Linked DNA regions of Homo sapiens: all the other regions are linked to region 2. The links come from fine-mapping of genetic effects on gene expression. A gene starts in region 2. Each other region holds a variant in brackets. All regions are shown on one strand. Distances are from middle to middle.

Region 1 (7,343 bases), 23 kb after region 2:
GTCGTCCAGGCTGGAGTACAGTGGCGTGACTTTGGCTCACTGCAACCTCTGCCTATGGGTTCAAGCAATCCTCCCACCTCAGCCTCCCGAGTAGCTAGGACTACAGGTACGTGCCACCACACCCAGCTAATTTTTCGTATTTTTTTTTTTGTAGAGATGGGGTTTCACAGCATTGCCCAGGCTGGTCTCAAACACCTGGGCTCAAGCCGTCTGTCTGCCTTGACCTCCCAAAGTGCTGGGATTATAGGCATGAGCCACTGCGCCCGTCCCACTGCTATTCTTCCAGCTAGAAGGACTATACTTAAATGCATAATTATACAACCTTTTGATATGTTATGAAAATCATAAAAAATTATTTTTCTAGCAACTCCTGCCCTTTTCATTAAACAGATCCTAGTAGTCCTGAAATTCTGTGGTGGATTTTTATATGTAATGTGATAATATGAAGAAATAGCTGATTTTGGTAGCTGCTCACATATTATGTTTGTTTTAATTGGAAAAGTTGGCCTATGAAAATGAGTGTTGTATAAAAATGGTTTATGTGGACCAGGCGCGGTGGCTCATGCCTGTAATCCCAGCACTTTGGGAGGCCGAGGTGGGTGGATCACCTGAGGTCAGGAGTTTGAGACCAGCCTGGCCAACGTGATGAAACCCCATCTCTACTAAAAATACAAAAATTAGCTGGGCATGGTGTGTGCGCCTGTAATCCCAGCTACTCGGGAGGCTGAGGCAGGAGAATCACTTGAACCTGGGAGGTGGAGGTTGCAGTGAGCTGAGATTGTGCCACTACTCCAGCCTGGGTGACAGAGCAAGACTCCATCTCAAAAAAAAAAAAAAAAGAAAAAGAAAAAAAGAACAAGAAAGAAAAATGGTTTATGTGAACTAAAAGGTTGTTTGCATTTTGTGGCAAATAACAGCACCAAATTCCCAGATCCTAAATGTTTCAGTTATGAAATATTTGAAGTACCTCTGAATTTACACATAGGCATTCCACTCATGTAAGCACTCATTGATTTTAAGATTTTTCATTCATCAAAAGGGAAAATGTGGGCTGCCATATGTATAATTTTTGTCATCCAAAAAAGAGATATAAAGTTAAAAATTAGCAAGGCCATGGTGGGTCATGCCTGTAATCCCAGCACTTTGGGAGGCTGAGGCAGGAGGATTGTTTAAGCCCAGGAGTTTGAGACCAGACTGGGCAACAGAGCGAGACATTGTCTTTACTGAAAAAAGAGAAATTATCCAAATATGGTGGTTTGTGCCTGTAGTCCCAGCTATTTGGGAGGCTGAGGCAAGAGGTTTGCTTGAGCTTAGCAGTTTGAGGCTGCAGTGAGCTATGGTCACACCACTGCACTGTAGCCTGAATGACAGAGACAGACCCTATCTCAAAAACAAAACGAAATTTAAAAAAAGGGTGCTTAGAAATCCTGAACTGTTCTTTTTACTCCCAGGACATGTGATCATATGCCTACTCAGGAATGAGTTATAGCTAGTTCTCAGTAGATGTTTAGTTATTAAAATGGAATGAAGGCATGAATGTGGGGATGAAGTAGAGGAGGGGCTGGGTTGGAGATACTGGTTAATTGGGAGGCATTAGTAACACTGAATGTGGGCAGAGAGGTGGTGAGAAAGAGGAGTCAAGGAAGAGTTGTAGGTTTCTGGTTTGGGAGCCTTGGAAGATGGTGCTAGCAAGCAGCCACTCACCAAGAAATCAAGTAAGAAGAAAGATCAGGTTTAGGAGGGAAGACACATTCAGGCAATCAATATATGGCATACACCAGGCAGTCAATAAATTTTGAGTGAGTAAATCTGGGCATGTGTGTTTTGAGATGTCTGTGGGCTATCAAAGTTTCTGGAGTTTCTTATCAAGAAGGTAGACCTGGTCTGCAGAGAGAGCTTCAGGATTCGTTGAAGTCATGGGCTTAGATGAACTATGTGTGTAAAGCAAAAAAGGTGTCTTTAGACAGAAGCATGGAGGATACCACAGAAGCATGGGGGCACCAGCAGGTAAGAAGTGGGCAGAGAAGGGCATGTCCATGGAGGAACCAAGGAGTGGTCAGAGAAGCTGGAGAAAAAGAAAAGGGTGGTTGTCCTGGGATCGGAGGTTGGGACCACCTCAAGAACAAGGGCTTGGCCATGGGACAAGTGCTTCAGAAAAGCCAAGAAGGCCTGGGGTGGAACTGTGTGGCAGTCTCTGGAGACCTTGAGGAGAGCCACTCCAGTGAACTGGAGGCGTACAGTCACACTGCAGTGGGTGGTGAGTGAATAGTGCAGAGGAAGCAGGAGAGTGAGTAGAGGTGCTCTTCCGTGAGGCTTGTCTGGCAAGGAGAGGATGGTGTAGTAAAATGAGGAGCCTACAAGGGCGAGGGAAGTGGTAAGGGTGTTGTCATCGTATGTAATGTATGTATGTATGTATGTATGTATGTATGTATGTATGTATGTATGTATGTTGAGACATAGTCTTGCTCTGTCGCCCAGGCTGGAGTGCAGTGGTGCAATCTCTGCTCACTGCAACCTCTGTCTCCCGGGTTCAAGATTCTCCTGCCTCAGCCTCCCAAGTAGCTGGGATTACAGGCACCTGCTACCACACCCAGTTAATTTTTGTATTTTTAGTAGAGATGGAGTTTTGCCATGTTGGCCAGGCTGGTCTCGTCTCAACCTCCTGACCTCAGGTTATCCGCCCACCTCGGCCTCCCAAAGTGCTGGGATTACAGGGGAGAGCCACCATACCCGGCCTGTTTTTTATTTATTTTTAGATGAGAGGACTTCAATGGAAAGAAGACTGAGTGTCAGGGGAGTGAGGATCATTGAAAGAGATGCCTCCCTTCGCACTGGAAGGGATGATATTTGGATTCTAAGTAGAAGGCTGCTTAGAAAGAAGACGTCTCTCCCATCGTTGAGTGGAGGAGAAGTTCAATCTAGAAATGTGTATATAATACAAGAGGGGGTGACTAGGCCTTTCAGTTGGTGGCAGGTGGATATTGATGGAGGAGGTGGGTATGCACATGTGGGAGTGGTGCATGAAGAGAAGCCCACACAGGCAGGCACCGGGCCAGAAGAGGGGAGTGCTGGGGTATTTGGGACCAAGTGGTGGTATGGCTGCAGCAAAGGTTGCCACGCCAAAGGTGTGGTGAAAAACTACGCTGGAAAGGAGGGAGGGTTGGCAGGCTCTGAAAGGCCGTGCTTGCCAGCCTGAGGATTGAATATTTTGTGAGTAAGGAGGAGCCACTTAGGGAGAAATAAAGTGGTCAGACCTATGATTTTAAAACTGACAGCAGAGTTTAGAGGGCAAGAGGGGTAGGGATATTGTTTGGAAGGTGATTGCGGTAACCTGGGTGAAGGTAATTAGGGCTAGAAATAGGATAGTTGCAGTGGGAGAGAGAAGGACTCCAGAAATTGAGTTGTCACATTGGCACCTGATCG[A/G]CCAGGGTGAGGGGAGGCAAGGAAGGAGACGAGAGAAAAGAAGGAGGTATGGAAGGTGGCTGGGTGGGAGGATGGCCATGCCACTGTGGAATGGGGAGCACGGGAGGAAGAGGAACAGGTTTAGTGAGGTAGGGGAACAACTCGGTTTTAGGGCCTATACGCAACATTTGTGTAGCATCCAGCTGCAGCCAGAATTAAGGGTCTGAAGCTCAGGACAGACCTCAGATCTCATGGAAGCATGAGATCATCATCCTTGAATTGGAAGTGGTTGAGATTTATTTGAAATAACAAGAGAAAAATAAATCTTGATGTGGATATGGACTGGAAGAGTAAACTTCACAGACCATTTGAGTGTATTTTTAACTTTCTTAGAAAAAAAGTCTTTGAAGACCAGAATGTGGTGGTGCTCCACAAATAGCTCAAAATTAGCACATCTAGAATAAGCTAGAAAATAAATCTAAGCAGTTTCAATAGAAATGCTGTTATCTTGATCTGGCTCTATTTGTTTTTTTTCCTATCAGGTTAAAATCTGTTTCTTCAATCATTTTGTTTATTCCTTTTGATAAGAGACTTCAGAGGACTGACAGGGACTAGCTGGTTATGTTTTTGAAAAGTCTTTGAAGATGAAACATATGTTTTGAGTGTGGTGACACTGCATTAATTATTCTCTGGTTTTGACACCAGTGGATACTGATACGGTTTGGATGTGTGTTGCCTTCAAATCTTATGTTGAAACGTGATCCACAATGTTGGAGTTGGGGCCTAGTGGGAGGTATTGGATTATGGGGATGGATCCCTCATGAATGGCTTAGTACCACCTCCTTGGTGATATGTGAGTTCTTACTCTGTTCACGTGAGAGCTGGTTGTTTAAAAAGAGCCTGGCACCTCCTCCTCTCTCTCTTGTTCCCTCTCCTGCCATGTGACCACCTGCTTCCCCTTTTCCTTTCACCTCCTGAGGTCCTCCTGAGGTCCTCACCAGGAGCAGATGTTGGTGCCATGTTTCCTGTGCAGCCAACAGAACTGTGAGCCAAAATAAACCTCTTTTCTTTATAAATTACCTAGCCTCAGATACTCTTTTATAGCAATGAAGAAAAGACAAACACAGAAAATTGGTACCAGGAGAGGGGCATCGCAATAAAGATACCTGAAAATGTGGAACTGGCTTTGGCACTGGGTAATAGGCAGAGATTAGAAGAGTTTGGAGGGGTCAGAAGAAGACAGGAAGACAAGGGAAAGTTTTGGAACTTCTTAGAGACTGATTAAATTTGACCAAAATGCTGATAGAAATATGGACCAAGTGGGGTGGCTCACGCCTATAGTCAGCACTTTGGGAGGCTGAGGTGGGAGGATTGCTTGAGCTCAGGAGTTTGAGACCACCCTGGACAAAGTGGCAAAACTGTATCTCTACAAAAAATACAAAAATTAGCTGGGCATGGTGACATGTCCCTGTAGTCCCAGCTACTGGGGAGGCTGAGGTGGGAAGATGGCTTGAGCCTGGGAGGCAGAGTTTGCAGTGAGCCAGTATGAGTCACTGCACTCCAGCCTGGGTGACAGCCAGACCCTGTATCAAGCAAACAAACAAGAATTGTGTGAGCTGAACTAGTTGAGATGTCTATGGTGTTGGCTGTTGTTTCTGCTGTTAATCATTAGTTCTCTTAAACTAGGAGATGAACAAGGTTAACCTTTTTCTTGCAAATTGACACAGAGGGTCTGCTGCTGTGAGCTTTATCTTCAACATCATCTTGTCCTTTTTTTTTTTTTCCTACTTTGAAAAAAAAATTCATTTTTTCATAGAAATGAGTTCTTACTATGTTATCCAGGCTGGTCTTGAACTCCTGAGCTCAAGTGATCCTCCTCAGCCTCCCAACTGGGATTACATGTGTGAGCCACTGCACCCGGCACTTCTTGAAGGGTTATCCACTTGAAAACTGCTGATTTTTGGGGGGCATTGTCCCCACAAACTTTTCAAAAAGCAACAGTGATTTCACCATTCTGCCCAAGCTTCACCATAAATTTGATGTTTGTTTTTGCTTCAATTTTAGCAGAATTCTAGCCCTGCGTGGTGACAGGCACCTGTATTCTCGGCTACTCCGGAGGCTGAAGCATGAGAATCGCTTGAATTTGGCAGGCAAAGTTTACAGTGAGCCGAGATGGCACCATTGCACTCCAGCCTGCACGACACAGCGAGACACCATCTCATAAAAAAAAAAAAAAAAAAAAAAAAAAAATTAGCAGAATTTATGTTGCTCTGATAGGGGCTCTTTTCAAACTGATGTTTATCCTTCTTAGTGCCTCAAACTAGGTTTTGCTCAGACATGTTATGACAAGTTAGTACAAGTTTATTTTGGTGCAAAAAATTTTTCAAATCCATGCATAGTTTCTTCTTTTTCTTTTCTTTTCTTTTCTTTTTTTTTTTTTTTTGAGACAAGATCTATCTCTGTCATCCAGGCTGAAATACAGTGGTGCAGTCTTGGCTCACTGCAACCTCTGTCACCCTTTTCCCACCTCAGCCTCCTGAGTAGCTAGGACTACAGGTACATACCACTACACCTGGCTAATTTTTGTATTTTTTGGAGAGATAGGGTTTTGACATGTTTCCAAGGCTGGTCTCAAGCTCCTGAGTTCAAGCAATCCATCTGCTTCAGCCTCCCAAAATGCTGGGATTACAGGCATGAGCCACCATGCCTGGCCGTAGTTTTTTCATAATATTCATTTTCCTTGAAATTTTTGATGACCCCTCGTATCTGTATTCCTGTTTTATAGTATCACACATTTATTACGTGCCTGTCTAATACCCATTGCTGTGGTTTTCTCTGGGAATTCAAAGAGGAGTAAGCTAGTAGCTCTGCCTTCTAGCACATGGGCTAGTGGAAAGTCATAAAGAGCCATTTAATGACCACTGTCAATGTCTGTGTAAGGGCAGTGAAGAGCACGCTGCTGTTGATAAGGATGGCTCACATTTATGGTACACTTGCAATACCTTTTACCCATACTGATTCATCTCATTCTCACACCAACTCTGTGATGTGGTACAGTTATTAGAAGAGGCACAGAGAGGTTAAATAGTAGCTGGTAATTAGATTAACCAACGTTAGAAACTGGGTGGTCTGGTGTGAGAGCACAGGCTTTTAAAAAGCGGTAAGAAGAGGGGAAGCTGCAGCCTAGTTAGGGTGACTGTTGTGTTATTGAAGATGAGGGGATGAGGACTTTGTGCATGTGTGTGGAGCCTGGGCTGTGAGGGTCAAGGGACAATGGGAAGGGACATTAAAAGGTTATGGTTAAAGTAAGCCTAGACGGACTAGTTTGAAGTCAAATAGTAGAAGGTGAGGATAGAGAGGGGGATGGGAACCAGATTATGAAAATAGGCAGTATCTCTTTTTTATGTCAAGTGTTACCCTGAAATTCCGAAACTATATTTCTTATGAACATACTGATTACATTCATTGTTATTTAAAAATATGCATGTACAATATGGGTGGAAATGATAATGATTGTAATGAGAGTGGCTCACAATTCCAAAGAAGTTGGGGGTTTCTGTGGGTTTATTATAACTTACGGTTTTTTTTTTTTCTGATATGGAGTCTCACTCTGTTGCCCAGGTTAGAGTGCAGTGGTGCGATCTCTGCTTACTTCAACCCCCGCTTGCCAGGTTCAAGCAATCCTCCCCGCTCAGCCTCCCAAGGCTCCCATTGCAAGCATGCACCACCACGCCTGGCTAATTTTTATATTTTTATTAGAGACAGGGTTTTGCCATGTTGCCAGGCTGGTCTTGGATTCCCGACCTCAGGCTATCTGTCCACCTTGGCCTCCCAAATTGCTGGGATTACAGGCATGAGCCACTGCACCTGGCCAGTTTATTATAATTTAAAAAGCAGTCTGTTATTAGTAGGCTTCGGAAATTTGTTTCAGGGAGTGGTAA
Region 2 (7,343 bases):
TTGTTAAAGGTCACATAAGAGTCAGTGATAGCCAAGGCAGGCAGATCACCTGAGGTCAGGAGTTTGAGACCAGCCTGGCCAACATGGTGAAACCCTGTCTCTACTAAAAATACAAAAATTGGCCGGGTGAGGCGGTGCGTGCCTGTAATCCTAGCTACTCGGGAGGCTGAGGCGGGAGGATCGCTTGAACCCGGGAGGCAGAGGTTGCAGTGAGCTGAGATCATAGCACTGCACTCCAGCCTGGGTGACAGAGTGAGACTGCGTCTCAAAAAAACAAAACAAAACTTGAACTTGGTTGCATACATTTAATTTTATTTATTCCACCCCCTTCCCTGAATTTGAAATGTTAAAAGTGTCTAGTTGCTTAACATGACATTTTGAATTTTTACAGATACAATTTTCATGAGCTAAATTTTAAATTCACAATATTTTAATTAAAAATGCTACCAGGCTAGGCATGGTGGCTCACACCTGTAATCCCAGCCTTTTTGGAGGCCGAGGTGGGAGGATCACTTGAGCCTAAGAGTTCATCAAGACCAGCCTGGGCAACATAGTGAGATCTTGTCTCTACAAAAAAAATATAAAAATTAGCCAGGCCTGGTGGCATATGCCTGTAGTCCCAGCTACTCGGGAGGCTGAGGTGGGAGGATTGCTTGAGCTTGGGAAGTCGAGGCTGCAGTGAGCCAACATGGCACCACTGCACTCCAGCAACAAAGTGAGGCCCTGTCTCAAAAAAAAAAAAAGCTACCAGAAAAATATGCAAATATCATTATGCTGCTTTTAGGAAACAAAATCACAATTCTTCCTTCCTTTATTTATTTATTTATTTATTTATTTTCTGAGGCAGAGTCTCCCTGTGTCGCCCAGGATAGAGTGCAGTGGCGTGATCTTGGCTCACTGCAACCTCTGCCTCCAGGGCTCAGGTGACTCTCCTGCCTCAGCCTCCCGAATAGCTGGGACAACAGGCATGTGCCATCATGCCCAGCTAATTTTTTTATATATTTTCAGTAGAGATGGGGGTTTCACCATGTTGGTCAGGCTGGTCTTGAACTCCTGACCTCAAGTGATCTGCCGGCCTCAGCCTCCCAAAATGCTGGCATTACAGGCGTGAGCCACCTCACTCGGCCCTTTCCTTTATTTATGTTTTTTTTGTTGCTTAAAAGCAGTGCTTCCATTTCATTATTTGATCATGGCTTTTAAAATTATTTTATTTATTTATTTTTTTAAGAGACAGACTCTTACTCTGTTACCCAGGCTAGAGTGCAGTGGTAAGATCATAGTTCATTACAGCCTCAAACTTCTGGGCTCAAGTGATCCTTCCACCTAGCCTCCTGAGTAGCTGGGACCACTAGCATGTGACACCACATTGGCTAATTTTTTTTTGTTTTTTGTTTTTGTTTTTGTAGAGACAGGGTCTCATTTTGTTGCCCAGGCTGGTCTTGAACTCCTGGCTTCAAGCAATCCTCCCACCTCGGCCTTCCAAAGTGCTGGGATTACAGGCGTAAACCACCATGCCTGGCCTAATCATGCCTTTATAAAAAAATCATTTTTTTTTAGAGAAAAGGTCTCACTATGTTGGTCAGGCTGGATAGGAACTCCTGAGTTCAAGTGATCCTCCACCTCAGCTTCCCCCTGTGCCCCACTCAATCATGCCTTTTTATTATAACTGATTCTGATGGTATGCTGACAGATATACAAATTAATCCAGTCCTTTGGAGCTTAAAAATAATACAATGAAAAAAATCATTTTTATGGTGTGGTGCATCATAAAGTTTATTTATTTATTTATTGAGACGAAGTTTTGCTCTTGTCGCCCAGACTGGAGTGCAATGGCGCCACCTCGGGTCACTGCAACCTAGGCCACTCCGGGTTCAAGCGATTCTCCTGCCTCAGCCTCCCGAGTAGCTGGCGCACGCTACCACGCCCAACTAATTTTTGTAGTTTTAGTAGAGGCGGGGTTTCACCACGTTGGCCAGGCTGGTTTCCAACTCCTGACCTCAAGTGATCCACCCGCCTCTGCCTCCTCAGGCGTGAGCCATCGCGCCCGGCCAATAAAGCATTTTAATGCATTTTTCCTCAAAGTATTCATAAACTTCAACTTGTTCTAGGTAAAATTATTTTCCCCTTTCTACCCACAATAAAATGAGTAATTTAAGCCCTTAACCTACACATTATTCTTACCTTGGAATATTTAATAAGAGCTGCGCTAATATTATATCTGAATAATGAAATAAGAGAAACCAAATAAGAAAAATTTGTCATAAAGCCCTATTCTCCTACATTAGATTATGTGCATGGCACACACACGGATCAGCTTAAGCTGGGTGAAACTATATGGAGTTAGAATTCCTGGCTTCCTATCATTCAGTAGCTGTGTGGCCGAGAAGAAGACTTTAATGTTGTAGGACCTTTAAAATGGGCTGTAACTCAAAGGCCCTCCTTCTGGAGTTGTTGTGAATCACGTGGGGTAATATATACTAGTTTACAAGATGGATGTGTAAGCCCGAAGGTGGAGCAGGTTTGCAAGCCTTCTTTCAGCCTAGGGACAGTAGGATGACTCATGAGTCAATTCTTCTCTCCTTCCCGTCATTTCGGGTCCAACTCTTCCTCCTGTAGTCCACAAAAGAGCACGGCTGACCGATACCAAGCAGAGAACCCAGTAGGGTATGTGACCACGTTCAGATCAACAGAACGCAAAGCAGAACGGTCCGAGTACTGCCTCCTACAGCCACTTTCCTTTCTTTAAGCCTCAGCTGCTGCTCTAGGTGTAAAACCGGCATAAAATAGCACTACGTACCTTGCAGAGTTGCTCGGAGGATTGAAGGAGATAATGTAAGAGAGTTTGGCTAGTTTGGCTATGATGGATGGACATTTTCTCTTTTCTAACGTCTCTCTTCCCCTCCTAATGAAACCTCTTCTGAAGCTCGCTAACTATAGCAGGGCTTGCAGCTTCAAAAAAACCTTTCAGTCAAGATCTTGAAATTAGTATTATTTAAATCAGTGCAGTAACACCAAGGTGTAAAAGACTGTTACCCACTGGTGGCTTTAAGAGGATTAGCTGACTGAAGAGTTTTAGAAAACATGGAAACTTTTTTTGTACGTGGATGGATGGAATTCCCTGATCTCCTTATCCCCACCACTTAAACCATGCCTTGTGGGTGACCGTGGAAGGCTGATTGTGGCGGGGACATTTACAAAGCACATTTAATTGATAAGCACTCGATTGTTCTGTAACTATAGAACTAGTTCACCTTTCAGTTGCACTGAGTGCGCCTAAGATAACGATCTTATTTGGAAGTGAGCCCTCGCTAGAAAGAAGGGGAAAAGGGTAAGACCGAAGCTCAAATGAATGACCAGAAAGGATGTTTTCATTCGAATAAACTCAACCCAGTTTTTGACCTCCCCACCCATCTCTGCCAACTTGAAATCCTCCTGGAGGGGCGAGCTGCTGGGGTTCAGGACTGGGCGTTGCGGCTGCAGGAAGCCGTGGGACCTGGGGGGTCCCTCGGCCGGGCAACCCCCACCCACCCCTACAGGACCCTGGTGCGGGGGCGAGCAGGGAGTGGACGCAGAGAAAGTTCCCCGCTCTGCTCCCGCCCTCTCCGAAACTCGAGCCAGCGAGGCTGGGGGCGGGCGGACGGCTCGCAGAGGAATTTGCAGTTTCCGGGAGGTTGAGGAAGCGACCCGAGCACAGCCCCAGCAGACGCAGCCCTAGCGCCCGGCTTTCCGGGTTCCGCGACGCTGTCGGGAGAAACCCGCGCGCCTGGAAGGGGCGGGCCGGGCTCCCCCCACCTGCGGGCGGGCGGGGAGGGTCGCGGCCGCGCGGGGTGGGGCTCGGCCGGTCGCCCGTCCGGGGCGGGGCCCAGGGAGGCGGGGTCGCGGGCGCACCGGGGCCGAGCCGCGCCTGGAGCCTGGCGGGGAGGCGGCAGGAGGGGCCGGGAGAGCCTGATTGAGCGGCGGCCGCAGCTGCATAAGGACTGCCCGGGGCTGCGCGCCGGGAACCTCGCGGGGCTGGCGGGCGCCGCACCCCCTCCCTGGCCGCCTGCGCCCCGGGGAGGCCGCCCGCGCGCGACGGGACCGGCAGCATGAGCAGCGGCTACAGCAGCCTGGAGGAGGACGCCGAGGACTTCTTCTTCACCGCCAGGACCTCCTTCTTCAGGAGAGCGCCCCAGGGCAAGCCCCGCTCCGGCCAACAAGTGAGTGGCGCGCGGCGGGCGCTGCAGCCCGCGCCCCAGAGTTCCGGGGAACCCGCCAGCCCGCGCCCCCTGCCTCCACGTGTCTCTGCGGGGCGCTCGGGGGATGCTCGCCGGGAAGGAGGAGCGGGCCGAGAAGTGGCTTCTGCCTTTTCGGGTCCCGGGAACGTGCCTGGAGCTTGTGCGTGTAGGCGAGGGAAGGCGGAGGAAGGGCGGGGAGGCTGAGGGCCGGCTTCTGCCTTCCGCGCCAGATGGCCTCTGCAGCTCCGCCTCGGGCTGCCGCCTGCGGGGAGCAGCCCCGGAGCCAGCAGGCGTCCCCGGGCCACTCCCCCAGGTTTCCCCTTCGCGTCCCCGCTGGGTCGACGGTCGGGTTCGCGCGCCTGTCCTTCCTGTTAGTCAGCTTACTCATCTGTGGCCCCCAGAGTGGCTTGGGTCAACGTGTAATAGCTAGGGGTGGCCGGGTGACCTGACCTCCCCTCTTCCTGGCCCGGGCGACCTGGTGGAGTGGGGGTCCAAGGGCACCGTGGGCCTCGCCACCATAGGCTCTCACTAAATCTCCGTTGCGGGACTCAGGGTTGTGCGTTTTCTGTAAAGCTAGGTTTTTTGGTGCCCAGATGTTTTGCAAACAAGCTCCTATGCTAAATACTAGCCAGCGACAGCTAACCTTTTCGCCGGTTTCTTCCTTTTTTGGAGGCAGCATGCCGTGGGAAGCACGAGTTGGGAAAAGATGGGAAGGGAACTTGTGCCAGTTTCGCCAGCTGTAGCCGTGTTTTTTGGGAGGCCTTCCCGAAACGGGGCACGTCGGCTGGACTGAGGAGCCCGGTGCTAGAGCCCGCGGCCTCCTGGCACTAGGAGCCGCACCAGGGGAGCCGGGCCAACCCGGCCACGCTCACATCAGATTACAGAAGATTGTAATGGCACAAATTTGTTGCTTTTAGAAAACAGGCGTTCGCCAAACATTTCTATTAATACCGGACTGAGACCTAGAGACTAGAAGCAAGAAGAATCGTTCAGGGGCCGGATGATAACTTCTTTTGGTGGATGTGGGAGGGTGCAATCTGTCAGGGTGGTCTTGCCAGACCTCTTAAGTTTAGCCACTTTCTGAAGTAAAATTCTTTCTAAAATTCGGAAGTTCTAGTCTTTTCAGGCTCTTAAGTCCCAAACCAGGAGGAGGAGAGGAGACGGTGAAGGGTAAGCTGAAGTCAAGTGCCCTTATTCAGTAACCGCAGTTAATCTCAAGTCCCGGTGCCATAGTTGTCCGTCTTGTATTGTTTCTAAGGCTTAAGGCCCCACTATTTACGAGTCACTTTGAGTGGGATCTCTTACTTTCAGCAGAGTGTGTTCTGAGAGCATGAGATTGCTGTGAAGTTTGGAAGTTGGAAACGCCCTCTCCTCCCCCATGCCCACCCTCCCTGGGTTGTAGAAAAATTGCATTTGCTTATGCTTTTTCCATTTTTGCTTTCTCTTTCTTGGCCTCTCTCTTCCCCTTCTCCGTTTTGCATTTTCTCCTTTCATTTATGTTGCTTTCACCACTTGACATGAAAAGGAACTCATGGTAGTTTGAAGTTTATTCCAGAGGTGTCTGCTAATCTCCTGAAAACTGGCTGGTTCTTGGATTCTCCAGGGGTGAGATGCCACAAGGGCCAAACTATTCAGGTTTGAATTGTATGAGAATCCTTTAGTGCTTTAAAGAGTAAAGACATCAGTTTTTTTCTAGGTTTATATGCATTTAGCGTTTCTTTTTTTTTTTTTTTTTTTGAGATGGAGTCTCACTGTGTTACCCAGGCTGGAGTGCAGTCGTGTGATCTCACTGCAACCTCAGCTTCCCTGGTTCAAGCGATTCCCTTGCCTCAGCTTCCCGAGTAGCTGAGATTACAGGCATGCACCACCACATCTGGCTCATTTTTGTATTTTTAGTAGAGATGGGATTTAACCATGTTGGCCAGGCTGGTCTCGAACTCCTGGCCTCAGGTAATCTGCCCGCCTTGGCCTCCCAAAGTGCAGGGATTACAGATGTGAGCCACCGCCCCCGGCACATTTATTGTTTCTATGTTGTATGCAATCATTTATGTATCATCTAGCATATATATTATACTCAGGGTAGTATTATTTAGCATTTAGAATTAGTCTAACATTAATATGTATTTTGAAATATCGTGTTGGAAATCAGGACAGGAAGACATAGTTCGTGGTTGAAGAGCTTCATATGTGTATTTGAAGCTTTATTGCCTGCATATTTTTCCCTTCTAACATAACACATGTAAGGTGCTGAGTTGTAGAAGTTATTTGCCAGGCAGAGAAAGTGTTCTAAACTACGAATTTTAGTGAGCATTGTGGTTTATTTAAAGAAGTGATATGAATGTTTTAAATTCCTGGTAAGATTGGTGAATTAGGGAAGTAAAACATCATAAATATAAAGCAAAACACTCTTAATGTAGAATGTTCCTTTTATCTAACGTTAGATAAGCCTTTTTCTTCATTTTCATGCTGATGATTATAAGAATAAGATAAGCACTTCTGACATACATCATAGTAGTGAAATTTATCCTTTCTCTAGAGAGATGGAAAGAGAGGTATTGCTAGAAGGATCTATTAGAGATACAGTGATTTTTTTTTTTTTTGGATGCTGTACCACCTGGTGGAAAAGTGAGAAAAATGAGGTTTCTAGATTTCTTGAAAATATCCGGAGAAAACAAGATGTTTGTGGTAAATGCAGAATGGGGAGAAAGGGGTGAGGGAGCGGGTGGACTGGAAATTTCTTTCTTCTCTTGCCAGGCAAGGGAACATAGTGCAACTTCTTTCTATCCCCAACAGTAACAAAAACCTTATAAAGAAAATGTTTTCATTTTTTTTCTTACTTTAAACCCCATTCTTAACAACAAGAACAACAACAAAAATGGAAAAGGGTTAAAAAACCTGTCTAGGCCACGTGTGGTAGCTCATGCCTGTAATTCCAGCACTTTGGGAGGCTGAGATGGGAGGATTGCTTGAGCCCAGGAGTTTGAGACCAGCCTGGACAACATGGTGAAACCCTGTCTCTACAAAAAAAATGCAAAAATTAGTCAGGCATGGTGGTGCTCGCCTGTAGTCCCAGCTACTCGGGAGACTGAGGTGGGAGCATTGCTTAAGGCCGGGAGGCAGAGGTTGCAG
Region 3 (7,343 bases), 38 kb after region 2:
GGGAAAGAGTACCTGAGGAGCTCAGGAAGAGTGATGGCCTAGAGCGTAGCTTGAATTGAGCAGCAGAGGTTTCTCTGGAGTGTCCTGTATTATCTTAGGCAAATTTGTAGTCTTCTTAATAGTATCTGTTTACATATCAATATGTTTTCTGTCCAGGCAAGGTGGCTCATGTCTATAATCCCAGAACTTTAGGAGGCCGAGATGGGCAGATCACTTAAGCCCAGGAGTTGGAGACCAGCCTGGGCAACATGGAGAAACCCCATCTCCGCAAAAAAATACAAAAATTAGCTGGGCGTGGTTGCACATGCCTGTAGTTCCAGCTACCCGGGAGGCTAAGGTGGGAAGATCACCTGAGCCCAGGAGGTTGAGGCTGCAGTGAGCTGTGTTTGCATCACTACACTCCAGCCTGGGCAGCAGAGACCCTGTCTCCAACCAAAAACAAACAAACAAACAAAAATATATATAATGTATATGTATATGTGTGGTTTTCCTGTCAATTTTTAAGTAGAATGTCCTCAGATACATATGCCATGTTTATCCTGTTACTTCCAGGATACCTGGGAATACCCAGAGGTTTGTGTCTATGTTAGTGTGAGAAGCCCTAACACATTTTTGTGTAGAGACAGCAAAACCTGTCTCTACAAAATAAAAAATAAAAAAATTAGCTTAGCATGGTGCCGTGTGCCAGTAGTCCCAGCTACTGTGGAGAATCACTTGAGCCTGGGAGGTTGAGGCTGCAGTGAGCCATGATCACGCCACTGCACTCCAGCCTTGGTGACAGCCTGAGGACTTTCTTATGGATTAAGGTGGGAATTATTTATGGTTTGCATGCTGAGAGAGATTTTCTGAATTTTTTCAACAAATATTGAACACCTGCCAGGTTGTGAATTTTTGTGGAGTGGATCAAAAGGACTGAAGGAAATGAACAAATAATTTTGGCAAACCATTATTAAGTAATGAATATGTATTGTATTCATTAATTAATGTATTAAGTGATGAATATGTATTGAATATGTGTATCATCACAGTAACTCTATGAGGGAGGTTCTATTATCACCCTCATTTATAGGATAAAGTACATGAGAGATGAATTTATCCTTAAGAAATATTTTCACTTTGGTGAGGCATGGCAGCTCATATTTTCACTTTGGCGAGGCATGACACTTTGGGAGGCTGAGGTGGGAGGATGGTTTGAAGCCATGAGTTTGAGACCAGCCTGGGCAACATAGTGAGACCCTGTCTCTATCTTTTTAAATTATAAAATTTTAAAAATAAAGAAATTTTTTTTTATTTTGAGAAGTTTGTGTGCTTTAGGTGTGTATTCTGTTTCATTAAGCCAAAGTTTGTATTACTAGCCTTCTATCCTGTCTTCCCATCCTTACCAAAAAAAGAGAAAAAGAAAAATAGTTTTACTCCTGAGGTTAAGAATGGGGCATGTTGTATCAATGTTTATTTGTGTAGATATTCTTTTGAATTTTTAAAAATTGGGGTATCACTTATATACAATAAAATGCACAAATCTTAATTGTACAATCTAATGAGTCTCTATGTTTAACTACCACCCAGATGTAGAAATGCAGTACATTTCTGTTACCCAGGAAGGTTCCTATGTGACTGTTCACAATCAGTAATCTCCCCAGCCCTTGGCTAGAACCACTAGTCTGACTTTTATCACCCTGAGTTAATGTTGCCGCATCTTGAACTTCATATAAGTAAAATCATGCAGTATGCACTCTTGCAGCTGACATCTTTTGCCCAAGTCAGTGCCACACATTGAGATTCATCCATGTTATTGCATATATCAGTAATTCTTCATTGTTGTAAAATATTACATTGTTTGAATATATCATTATTTATCCATTCTCTTGATGAACATTTGGATTGTCAATCAGCTGCTTTGATCATTCTTGTAGAACGTGTCCTTTGGTGGACATAACCCTTCATTTTTCTTGGCTATATATATACCTAAGAGTGGAATTACTGCATTGTAGAGTAGGTGTATCATTGGCTTTAGTAGATATTACCAGTTTTCTAACTGTGTTAGACTGACGTACATGCCCACTAGCAATGGATGAGAGTTCTGTTTTCTCCACATCCTTGCTAACAGTCTCTTTAGTTGTTCCATTTTTAATTGTGTCTTCAAGTAGGAAGCACCCTCACTTACAGGAGAAAGGAACTCCCAAGGAAGTTTCTGATTAGTGCAAGTTGGGTGGGATGAAGATGAATAACCAATACATAGCCTAAAGCTTTGCTCAGCATCTTATTCAGATGTAGTATTTATTTCAATGACAACCAAAAATAATTTCTGAATGGACCCTCCCTACCCATCTACTGTAAGTTAACATTGTCCAAATTCTAGTCTAATTATGCTTATGTTCTTCTTCTCCCCTCTTATATTCATGCTGAAATATTAAAAAATCACTGCAAATTCCTATGGAAAACCTCATACTTCAAAAGGGATCAGTGTTTGGTTTCTCTCTCCATTTTTTTTTTTTTTCTGTTGAAATAGAGTGAAAGACCCAGGAATAATATGCCTGTGTGTACATTTTGCAGATCTGGTAATAATAACAACTGTAGCGGTTACTGAGGGCCTCCTCTGGGTCAGGCTCTGTGAGAAGTGATTTGTATTCCTTAGTTCATTTACTTTCTATCATGACCCAATAAAGTATATGTATCTTTGCTATCCCCATTTTATAGATGAAGAAGCTAAAGCTTTGAGAGGTTAAGTAATTTGCCCAAGTTTATCTAGCTAGTAAGTGCAGAAGCTAGAATTTTAATCTAGGTCTGTCTAACTACAAAGGATGGAATTAGGCCCCTTTCTTATGATTATTAATAAAAATGATCTCTATGTAGTTAGGATTTACTAACCCAATTTCTTTTATCTTTTAAACTGAGAATCCCTCCACCTCCTGGCACCCCAGTTCTGGTAAAAGATAAATGAAACCCATAGTTGTTTTTCTCAGCAAGGGTTTTATTTATTTATTTATTTATTTTATTTTTTTTAAGACAGAGCCTCACTCTGTCACCAAGACTGGAGTGCCGTGGCACGATCATGGCTCACTGCAGGCTCAGCCTCCCAGGCTCAAGTGATCTTCCTGAGCAGCTGGGATTGCAGGCACACACCACCATGCTCGGCTAATTTTTTTTTCTTTTTTTTTTTTTGGTGAGACGGGGTCTTGCACTGTTGCCCAGGCTGGAGTGCAATGGCATGATCTTGGCTCACTGCAACCTCCGCCTCCCGATTTCAAGTGATTCTCCTGTCTCAGTCTCCAGAGTAGCTGGGATTACAGGCATCCACCACCACGCCCGGCTAATTTTTTGTATTTTTTAGTAGAGACGGGGTTTCACCATGTTGGCCAGGCTGGTCTCGAATTCCTGACCTCATGATTTGCCCACCTCGGCCTCCCAAAGTGCTGGGATTACAGGCATGAACCACCGCGCCCGGCCCCGGCCTTGTATTTTTTTTTATAGAGACAGGGTTTTGCCCTGTTGCCCAGGATGGTCTCCAACTCCTGGGCTCAAGCAGTCCTCCCATCTCAGCCTCCCAAAGTGCTGGGGTTACAGGCATGAGCCACTGTCCCCAGCCTCCCAAGGTTGTTTTTAGGCCCTTTGAGGCTTATAAAATAGAATAAATGAGAAATAGGTCCAACCTTCAAGAGCACTGTGTATAGCACCCAAGATTAGAAATGCATATGTTCAGCCATGACATCTATGGAAAGTACAGAGGACAGGTCCTGAGGAAGTGCTGGGGCTGTTGGTGGTACCAGCCTTTGTGTAGCAGAAGAT[G/A]TTTGAGCTGTGCTTTGCAAAGTGGCTGGATCATAGACATGTGAACACTAGGAGTTGGGCCAGTGGGTGGAGATAGAATTTGTGCCTCAAATTGCAGATACTTCTGTTTGGTGGGTACATGTGTGACAGGCATAAACTTAGTGAGTAGGTGGCCCCAGATTTGGACCAGGTCAGGGAGACTCTTGAATGTCAGGCCTTGTGGCCTTTTGAGGCATTTCCCGCTGGACGATTAGTTGGGCAGTGGTGTGGCAGCATGTGGAGGTGGAGAGGCTGATGGAGAACTTGCAGTAGGATGTCCATCATGTGGGACTGAAGGCTAGCTGGGAGGTATATCTGGGCTGGAGAAAATGGACATGGGACTCACAAAACTGGTTGTAGGAGCTATGGGAATAGACAGAGGCTCCCGGCTAGAGCTCTAGGGCATAGTGGGTTAACCAGCGGTGGGTGTGGTGTCAGAATCACTCATAAAGCTTTTTTTTTTTTTGAGATGGAGCACGTTCCTGGCTCACTGCAACCTCCACCTCCTGGATTCAAGCGATTATCCTGCCTCAGCCTCCCAAGTAGCTGGGACTACAGGCATGCGCCACAACACCCAGCTAATTTTTGTATTTTTAGTAGAGACGGGGTTTCATCATGTTAGCCAGGATGGTCTCGATCTCTTGACCTTGTGATCCGCCTGCCTCGACCTCCCAAAGTGCTGGGATTACAAGGATGAGCCACCAAGCCCGGCCAAGCTTCTTGTTTTTACATTGATTTTTTTTTTTTTTTTTTTTAGAGATAGGGGCTCGATCTGTTACCCAGGCTGGAGTGCAGTAGTACAGTGTTGGCTTACTGTAACCTCCAACTTCTGGACTCAGGTGATCCTCACCCCTCAGCCTACCGAGTAGCTAGGACTATAGGTGTGTGCCACCATGCCCGGCTAATGATTTAAAAAATGTTTTGTAGAGACAGGGTCTCATTATGTTGCCCAGCTGGTCTCAAACTCATGGCCTCAAGCGATCCTCCTGCCTTGGCCTCTCAGGGTGCTGGGATTAAAGTAAAGGAATGAGTCCAGCTACTCATACAGCTCTTGAAAACCCTCTGGCTTGGTCTGACCCTGGAGCTTCTAATTGGTGTTCTTGGGGTCTCAGCAGCCATCTGGGTTTTTTTTTTTCTTTTTTTGGGATGGAGTCTCGCTCTGTCGCCCAGGCTGGAGTGCAGTGGCGCGATCTCGGCTCACTGCAAGCTCCGCCTCCCGGGTTCACTCCATTCTCCTGCCTCAGCCTCTGGAGTAGCTGGGACTACAGGCACCCGCCACCACACCCGGCTAATTTTTCGTATTTTTAGTAGAGACAGGGTTTCACCGTGTTAGCCAGGATGGTCTCAATCTCCTGACCTTGTGATCCGTCTGCCTTGGCCTCCGAAAGTGTTGGGATTACAGGCATGAGCCACTGCGCCTGGCCAGCCATCTGGATTTTTAAAAGCACCTTGGCTTCTAGTGCATATTCTCTGCCCACTCTGCAGGTAAGAAGCAGTGAGGAAAATGGTCCTAGGGTACCCGGTTAGGACATAGTCATATCTCTGAGTTCTCAGGGAACTCAGGAAAAATCATGCCGTCTCGATAGCCAAGTTATCAGTGTCAAATGTCTCGAAAAGATCTTGTTTCCAAAGTCGTCATGCTTAACACTTCCAAAACAAAGAGTGTGCCAACTTCTTTGGGCAAGCCATTTGTGGGCAATTTTGAGGATCAGAAAAGCTCTTTGGTGAAATAAACTAAACGGTCTCCCTGAATAGCTTTCACAGTGTGGGCCTTGCAGGGAGCACAAGGCCAGCCCACCCTATACATGATATTCTTTACGATTATAAAGACACTTTTTACTGTTTCTCCCAGTTTTCCTTTTTCCCACACTAACATCCCCAGTATGCTCTTGTGTAGTTTTCAGAGCCTTTGTTATGATTCCCTCTGAACTGTTGCTCTTTGCCAGTATTGCTTTTCAAATAAGGCAACCCCAAATTTACGCACCAGCATTGTTTAGTGGGACCATTTATTTGTCTCTTGTCATGTAGATGATACACGCATGTATTTGCAGGGGCAGGGACAGGGGATCCCCAGTATAAACTTTAAATGTGCCTTTAATTCTATCTTGGATTCACCCTGTTTGAGCCTGTGATCTGGCTTACCCTCCCAGATGTCATTGGCCAATTTGATAAACAAATTCGATTATCTCCATGCCAAAGAGGAAGCAGTGCCTCAAGGCAAGCCTGAAGCAGCGCTGCCATGACAGGACCTTGACAGGTCCTTGATAGGACCTTTGTGCTGTGCTCAGTGATGACCTCAGTGATAGTTGTCCTCAGCCAGGAGGTGTTTCTTTTTTTTTCCTTTTTTTTTTTTTTTTTTTTTTTTGAGACAGAGTCTTGCACTGTTACCTGGGCTGGAGTGCAATGGTGCAAGTCTGGGTTCACTGCAACCTCTGCCTCCCAGGTTCACGGGATTCTTCTGCCTCAGCCTTCTAAGTAGCTGGGATTACAGGTGCGCGCCACCACACCCAGCTAATTTTTTGTATTTTTAGTAGAGACGGGGTTTCACTATGTTGGCCAGACTGGTCTCGAACTCCTGACCTTGTGATCTGCCCGCCTTGGACTTCCAAAGTGCTGGGATTACAGGCGTGAGCCACCGCGCCTGGCCGAGTTGTTTATTTCTAAAGGATTTTTAGGAGTCTTAAAAAAAGTCTTTTCCTGTACCTTAAACAATGGTTTCACTAAAGGGAATTGCTGTCTTAGATGTTTCGTGTTGAATCTTACACATTTTTGCCTAAGCTGTATCATCCTCATTGGAAAACCCTTGCACCGAGTATTTACTTTTAGTCACACTTTGCTATAAACTTTATGACTTGTGCATGCGCGATTGTATGGCTGGCTCTTTGCCTTTTGCCTCTACTGTGACCAACACTGATTTCTTACAGGCTTGTAAAGTGGTTTCCAAGATCTGTTTGCTGTGTGTGCTTGGCTGCATTTGATATAAATAGATTTGAGATTAGTGTTTGAAAGTGCCATATGACCATATACAGAGCTGACTTACTAAGGATATGTTACTGCATTTCAGACACATCTAGTAATAGAAAAATCAGTGTCTTAATGGGCTGTGCCTCTCTCGTGTCCCCTCTTTTAAAAAAAAATTTAGTTACAACTAAATGTCAGGAAATTTTGTAGCTTACCTAGTTTAAGTCCCAAGATATGTGGAGAGACAATAAAAATGATAATGACAATGGTGCCTGGAGATGCGTATGTTAACATATGTTAAGAAGTTATTTTTAAGGTTGCCCACTTAATGTTTTTGTTTTTATTTTTGAGATGAAGTCTCACTCTGTTGCCCAGACTGGAGTGCAGTGGCTTGATACTGGCTCACTGCAACCTCCAACCTCCCGGGTTCAAGTGATTCTCTTGCCTCAGCCTCCCATGTAGCTGGGATTACAGGCGCCTGCCACCACACCCGGGTGATTTTTGAATTTTTAGTAGAGGCAGTGTTTCACCATGTTGGCCAGGCTGGTCTTGAACTCCTGACCTCAAGTGATTCACCC

What was found. PIP is the estimated chance that this variant, and not a neighbour inherited with it, causes the effect. A credible set is the group of variants that fine-mapping cannot tell apart.
Region 1: its variant is the best candidate, but not a certain one, in a credible set for the expression of RASSF3 in whole blood (INTERVAL, PIP 0.76).
Region 3: its variant is the best candidate, but not a certain one, in a credible set for the expression of RASSF3 in atrial appendage (GTEx, PIP 0.73).

Annotation. Positions count from the first base shown.
Region 1 is chr12:64,629,139-64,636,481 of GRCh38, forward strand. All of the region lies in intron 1 of RASSF3 (Ras association domain family member 3), which reads left to right. Among named protein-coding and RNA genes, the nearest start is that of MIR548Z, 10 kb to the left of the region's middle. The variant A/G (reference allele first, on the strand shown) is at 3,424.
Region 2 is chr12:64,606,548-64,613,890 of GRCh38, forward strand. It overlaps RASSF3 (Ras association domain family member 3), which reads left to right and starts at 3,948. Exons shown (of 5, transcript NM_178169.4): 1 at 3,948-4,196. The coding sequence starts at 4,086. RASSF3-DT (RASSF3 divergent transcript) reads right to left here and starts at 2,919. Exons shown (of 2, transcript NR_187549.1): 1 at 2,798-2,919. RefSeq lists enhancers at 2,488-2,537, 2,758-2,817 and silencers at 3,448-3,517, 3,678-4,197, 4,408-4,477.
Region 3 is chr12:64,644,264-64,651,606 of GRCh38, forward strand. All of the region lies in intron 1 of RASSF3 (Ras association domain family member 3), which reads left to right. Among named protein-coding and RNA genes, the nearest start is that of MIR548Z, 25 kb to the left of the region's middle. RefSeq lists an enhancer at 3,484-4,207. The variant G/A (reference allele first, on the strand shown) is at 3,787.